2 linked regions of the Homo sapiens genome follow. The protein of the gene in region 1 purifies or fractionates together with the protein of each later gene. This does not show direct contact. Each region holds a gene or a part of one and is shown on either strand. Other genes may lie near its edges. The genes, in order: THYN1 and SHPK.

Region 1 (2,895 bases):
CCCCTGTGGCTTTGGAGGCATTGTGCCCACGGTCCACCAAGTTCTGTGGTCTCTTCCGTCTTACATGGTCCCAACTCCGACACTCAGGGAAAGACAGATCCCTGCCCTGATTTCCCTACATAGTGCCTGTGCTCTCACTGTATAGCCCCGGGTGAAAAATGATGAATACTTTATTAGCCACCTGTTTGAGACAAGCACATGGCTGAGAAATGAATTCAGTTCTTATCCCTATCTGGCAGTTTATCCAGAACTGCTCATGGGATGGTTTAAACCTCTGTGGGACCCAGAAGATGAAAGGGGCAGGTGAGCAAGGCTGGTGTAGAAAGAAGAGTTCATTCCAGTGGGTGTTACCAGACTGAGGATCTCAGCCCTACGTCATGCAATTTGCTACAGAACTACTAGTGATCGTAAAGAAAGAAGGTGGAGGCAGCTCTGCATCTGGGAGCGGCCAAAGGAGCCCGCCTGGAGGTAAGAGGTCTGCAGTGGGGAGTATCCCACTGCACTCAGTGTGGTTTTAGAAGAAAAGTTCTTCAACTTTGATATTTTATTGAAAAAAGTACACAAAAACCACTGAGGTACACAAGCCCAGGTAAGCATACCAAGCAAGCCCCCTCACACCTTTTGTCTGAAAAAAGCTTGACTTCTTTGCAGCAATGTCTCGCCCATTCCAGCAGCAGTATCTCAGTTAACTTGGTTCCTTTTCCTCCAGGCTCAAAACAAAATCAAACTCTTCTACAAAAAAAAAAGGGAAAAAGGAAGGATTAGTTTTTAATGTCCCCTCTTGAACAGGAAAGTTGTGCCAGGCACAGGTACATCTTACATGGTACTAAGGCGAGCAGTCATTCGTTCAAAACTATTTACCAGGTGCCAAGCACTATAGAGTACTGGGTAATAGTAACAGGTAACTCTGGCCACATTCCCTCCCTCATGGGTGTTACAGGTGAGGATGCTGACTGAGAAAGGTGAAGTACCATGCCCAAGTTTAATCAGCTAGTAAGTGGGAATTCATGAGGTCATTCTGGTATATGGACAATAAAGGAGAGGGCCCACTCTTACCCTGGGTCAGGGGCTGGATTGATAATCTCTGGCGAGTGAAGAGAACCATATTTTTTAAGGGGCCACCAGTAGCTTTGTGAGCTTGATGATAGGATTTGAGCTCAGCCAGGGGAATGAAACGTTTCATCATCCGAACAAACTGTACATCCACCTATGTGACAACAGTGTACATGACAGAAAGACGTGTCTAGGCTGACTGTGCCCACTGTATTTTTAACCGCCCACAGGAAGCTCCTATCTCAGTATCACCTCATCTGAGTAAGTGCTGGGCCGTGTACCTTGACCTACAGTCACCCCAACCGTCTTCTTCCCCTGGTTCATCCTTCCCCTGTCATGAAATAGAAAGCATAGTCTTTACCATGGACCACTTAGGGTTGTCCTCTTTGCTAGATGGGTCATAATGGGGATTGTTTTTCTCAAACTGTGTGTGGTCTGGGTAAGCCTCTTTCACGATCTGAAACCAAAACAAAAGCTTTGAATCATCTGCCTGCAGTCAGCTCCACAGCCAATCTTTTAATCCATATCCAACTTTCATTTCTTCCCTGCACATTCTTAACCCATCTGCCTTGCTGTACAGCCAATGGGGGCTCAGATATTTGGAAACAATATATAGTCTAATATATAGACTAGGAAATCAACTCTGTTTTTACAAAAGTCTTAAAAACATGCTCTAAAAACAAATGGCAAAGGTTATTACTGGTACCACTGTTTTTTTCCCCTCTGCACAGTTAATAATTTTATCCTGATAAGCTTGGAGGAGCTATCATCAGGCCTGTTTTCGAGTGAGATCAAGACTTAGAGGTGGAGTGAAGTCTGTGCTAGTCGGACCTGAATGAAGGCCTGCTTTGAGTTATCAGATAGGAAGGGGCCAGGGCAGTTTTTCCCTATTCCTGTAAAAGGGGGATGGGGTGGGGGGGAGTGTACTTTTTTGTTGCCTAATTAAGGTATATCCCTTTATATCTACTTAAGTTAGTCTCCCTGGAGGAAAAGGGATTCACACCAAAACCTGCCCAACTAACCTTCATGAGTCCTGCGATGCCTGGCTCTTTGCAGTTGCTATGGTAGAAGAAGGCTTCTTCTCCCAGCTTCATGGCTCTAAGGAAGTTCCGAGCCTGTCCCGGGAGAAGAAAGAGTAACTATCCTCCCACCAGCTGGAAAGTACTAGCTTTTAGCAGAAATCAAGTCTGCTTTTAATAGATGGGTGATTCTTGTCTGCAACTCCTCAATTCATTAGAAAGTCCTTCCCCTTTGCCAGGACACCCAGACTTTTACCAGGACATTGGCCAGAACACAGGCCAATTGAAAATTTCATGCAGAGTACTTAAGGCATTTTTTAATACATTATCAGGTTTGCTTCTGAGAAAAAGCAACCTTGGCCAAGAGGTTCTGCTACTGAGTACGTCATGAGGAGGAGGCAGGCATTCATCCCACCTGGGTCTCAGGCGACCTCCTCCTTACCCTCTTACCTGGTAGTTACGAACACCATCCCAGCATGTTGTCTGTTTGGGCTGTGCTTTGAGATCCTCAATGCTGAACTAGGCAAGAGGAAATAAATTCAATCATTAAACAATCCTTGGCCAGTTAGTAAGCACATATGGAAGCAGACAGTTCCTTCCCCTAAAATGAGAGGGGCCACTGGCTATAGAGGAAGTATGTAGTTCACCGGGAAGTGGCTCCACAGAGACACTTTTGCTGGGTGAATGTAAGTAAGCCTTGTGTTACCTTGTTATCCTTGCTAATTATGAGGATTAGCTGAATGAATAATCTAGGTGATAAAGTAATCTGCTAGTTACTTGCATTTTACTTTATATTTATAATAGTTCTGCTTATATTTTTCCC
Region 2 (3,824 bases), on another chromosome or scaffold:
ACTCAGAGGTCACAAGTCACAGTTTGGCAGTGAGAGGGGGTGGCCTGTCGGGCTAACTCAGAGGTCACAAGTCACAATTTGGCACTGAGAGAGGGTGGGGTTTTAAAAATATGTCCAGGATAGTTAGAAGGGCAAGGTGTTGAAGAGATGTTGATCAAAGGAATTTTTTTTTTTTTTTTTTTTTTGAGACAGAGTCTCGCTCTGTCACCCAGGCTGGAGTGCAATGGTGCGATCTTGGCTCACTACAACCTCCACCTCCCAGGTTCAAGCAATTCTCTGCCTCAACCTCTCAAGTAGCTGCGATTACAGGTACCCACTACCACGCCTGGCTAATTTTTTTATTTTTAGTAGAGATGGGGTTTCACCATCTTGGCCAGGATGGTCTCGAACTCCTGACCTCATGATCCACCCACCTCGGCCTCCCAAAGTGTTCGGATTACAGGTGTGAGCCACCGTGCCCGGCCGATACTCCTCCTTTCAAGAGGTAGAACCTGATTCCCCTCCACGTGAGAGTGGGCTGGACTTAGTGACTCACTTCTAGTGAACAAAATAAAGCACAAGAGACAGTGTGTGCCTTCAGAGGCTAAGTCATAAAAGGCACTGCGACTCCTATCTCGGTCACGCTGTCTTGTGGATCACTTGCTCTCGGGGAAGGCAGGTGCCACGTCGTGAGCAGCCCTGTGGAGAACCTCACGTGCCAGGGAACTGAGGCCTTCTACCAACAGCATCAAGCGTGGGCTCAGAGGCAGATCCTCCAGGCTCAATCAAGCCTTTGGAAGACTGCAGCTCCAGAGTGAATGCAACCTCACGAGAGACCTTGAGCCAGGACATCCCACCCCACTCAGAATCCTGACCCTCAGAAACTGTCCAAAATAATAAATGTCTGTTGTTTTAGGCTACTATGTATTAGGGTAATTTGTTACACAGCAAAAGAAAACTATGACAGGGTAAGACCTCAGACCAAGGGCTTTAGTCTCTGAGGAGGTTTCATTCATTGGCAGTGAATACTACTCTTGCTCATTTCCAAAGTATTCTTTTTGTTGTTGCTTTTGTTTTTGCTTTTGTTTTTCAGACAGAGTTTTGCTCTGTCACCCAGTCTGGAGTGCAATGGCGCGATCTTCGCTCATGCAACCTCTGCCTCCCAGGTTCAAGTGACTCTCCTGCCTCAGCCTCCCAAGTAGCTGGGATTACAGGCATGCGCCACCACGCCCAGCTAATTTTTTGTATTTTTATTAGAGGTGGGGTTTCACCATGTTGGCCAGGCTGGTCTCGAACTCCTGACCTCGTGATCCACCTGCCTCGGCCTCCCAAAGTGCTGGGATTACAGGTGCCCGCCACTGTGCCCAGCTAATTTTTATATTTTTAGTAGAGATGGGGTTTCACCATGTTGGCCAGGCTGGTCTCGAACTCCTGGCCTCAAGTGATCTGCCCACCTCAGCCTCCCAAAGTGCTGGGATTACAGGTGTGAGCCAATGCACCCGGCCAAGTTTTTCTTTAATCAGATCTGGTGTCGTAAGTGGGATCTGAACCCACCCACCTCACGATGACCTCTGGGAGCAACAAGCAAACGGGCATAAGTACCCACTGAGCCTTGGCACTCACTGCTTCCTGCTGCACATTGGGAGGCCTTCTCCAGTAAGCCCTCTTGGACATATGAACTCCACAACTTGTGTTGAGTTCACTGAGTTATTTGGGCATTTTTAAATCTGGACTGGGTTTGGAAGCCATGACAGAAACTGGAACAGGTGCTGAAGGGAAGCTTCAGGTGTCCAACTGGGTCAGACAGAAACTAAATTGGGTTTAGTAAAAGACCTCCAGTAGAAAAGGTTCCAGGAAGACAGAAAATAATGGGTTTACTTAAATTCAGGGAGTCTGAGACTCCATCTCAGAACATTTGCTTTTCTAGATAAATGAGTGAATCTTACCAAAAATAATTTAGAATTTTGGTGGCCACATAAGGAAGTTTTAACCTAAACAAACAAACAAACAATTCCAAACACCTCAGAAACAATGGGATATATTTTTGATTGGCAGGTAAAAGTTTCTGACCTCTCTTTCTTTGTACCTTCCTCTCCCTACACTGAATCTGCTGACATTTTTGCCTGTTTACCTCCTACCCCAAAGTCAAAAAAAAATTAAAAAGGAGAACTAGATAACTGTTTATAAAAGTCAGGCTCTCAGATTAACCAGATCTGCTTTTTAAGCATTCTTATGCCTTCGTCAAAATCTTGAGCTCAGAGCAATAATGAAAGATATCCCTGTTTGGCATAAAAAATGCTTTGTCTGCCCTATCAAAATTGTTTTGTCTTGCTTCTGCAAATACTTTATGAAAATTTCCCCTCTTGCCTCTCCTGGCAGAGTGCTAGGAGTCTGGTGCTACCATGATTCACAAATCACTGCATCTTCAAATAAACTCTTTGTTTGTTTGTTTGTTTTTGAGACAGAGTCTCACTCTGTTGCCCAGGCTGGAGTGCACTGGCGCGATCTCAGCTCACAGCAACTTCTGCCTCCTGGATTCAAGCAATTCTCTGCCTCAGCCTCCCGAGTAGCTGGGATTACAGGTGCCCACCACCACACCTGGCTAATTTTTTGTATTTTTAGTAGAGATGGGTTTTCACCATCTTGGCCAAGCTGGTCTTGAACTCCTGACCTCATGATCCACCCACCTCAGCCTCCCAAAGTGCGGGGATTACAGGTGTAAGCCACCGCACCCAGCCAAATAAACTTTTTAAAATTTAAATGTACTTCTTCTATCCAACATTCAATCCTTTTTTAGCTATGTGTATATACCACATTATAAAAATTCATTCATGGCTGGGCACAGTGGCTCACGCCTGTAATCCCAGCACTTTAGGAGGCCGAGGCAGGTGGATCACAAGGTCAAGAGATCGAGACCATCCTGGCCAACATGGTGAAACCCTGTCTCTACTAAAAATACAAAAATTAGCTGGGTGTGGTGGCGTGCGCCTGTAGTCTCAGCTACTTGGGAGACTGAGGCAGGAGAATCACTTGAACTCAGGAGGCGGAGGTTGCAGTGAGCTGAGATTGTGCCACTGCACTCCAGCCTGGGTGAGAGAACAAGACTCCATCTCAAAAAAAAAAAAAATTCATTCATTAGTTGACAGACATTTAGATGGTTTATACTTTTTGGCTATTATAAGTAATGCTGCTGTGAACATCTGTGTACAACTTTTTGTGTGGATATCATTTGTTTTCAGTTCTCCTGGGTGTATTTCTAGGAGCAGAATTGCTGGGGCCTGTGGTAACTCCACGTTTAACATTTGAGGAACTACCAGCTGTTTTCCAAAGAGGCCGTACCTTTTTACAATCCCACTAGCATGTTCTCACTTTTTTTTTTTCAAGTTTAATCATTTTGTATATAAGCACTGATTTTACAAAACATAGTATATAAAGGCAAACTAAATTTACATAACTTAAATTGTTATTTTTTTTTCTGCCTCTAGAGATGATGCCTTAAGAACAACTCAATTTGTTCACGTAAATTGCCTTCAGCCTACGTTGCAGCTAAGATGTGTGTAAGATTTTACATGTATTTTGGAAGAAATCACACAGAAGAAGCTGCTTTTTCAATAAACGTGGCCAGCTTCACATCTCTTTTGATCAGTCCACCACAGTTACGTGAGGTGAGAGTTATCTGGACCTTGTTTTATACATTGAACCATTCCGGGTGATGATTCATCTTCTCTGCTTGTAGGGCAACTCGGGACATAAAGCCAAATGCCTGATTAAAAATTTGGACGGAGAGGCCGGGCACGATGGCTCACACCTGTAATCCCAGCACTTTGGGAGGCCAAGGCAGGCAG

The links.
Region 2: the proteins of THYN1 (region 1) and SHPK purify together in Homo sapiens (affinity purification with mass spectrometry; 2 studies listed by BioGRID and IntAct, with this or other methods). This does not show direct contact.

Annotation. Positions count from the first base shown.
Region 1 is NC_000011.10:134,247,753-134,250,647, forward strand, and holds the end of THYN1 (thymocyte nuclear protein 1), read right to left. Parts: intron 2,592-2,895; coding exon 2,523-2,591; intron 2,169-2,522; coding exon 2,076-2,168; intron 1,511-2,075; coding exon 1,415-1,510; intron 1,208-1,414; coding exon 1,057-1,207; intron 733-1,056; coding exon 686-732; 3' UTR 530-685; downstream 1-529. UniProt on the Homo sapiens protein: Specifically binds 5-hydroxymethylcytosine (5hmC), suggesting that it acts as a specific reader of 5hmC.
Region 2 is NC_000017.11:3,615,688-3,619,511, forward strand, and holds part of SHPK (sedoheptulokinase), read right to left. Parts: intron 3,758-3,824; exon of another isoform or gene 3,377-3,757; intron 1-3,376. UniProt on the Homo sapiens protein: Acts as a modulator of macrophage activation through control of glucose metabolism.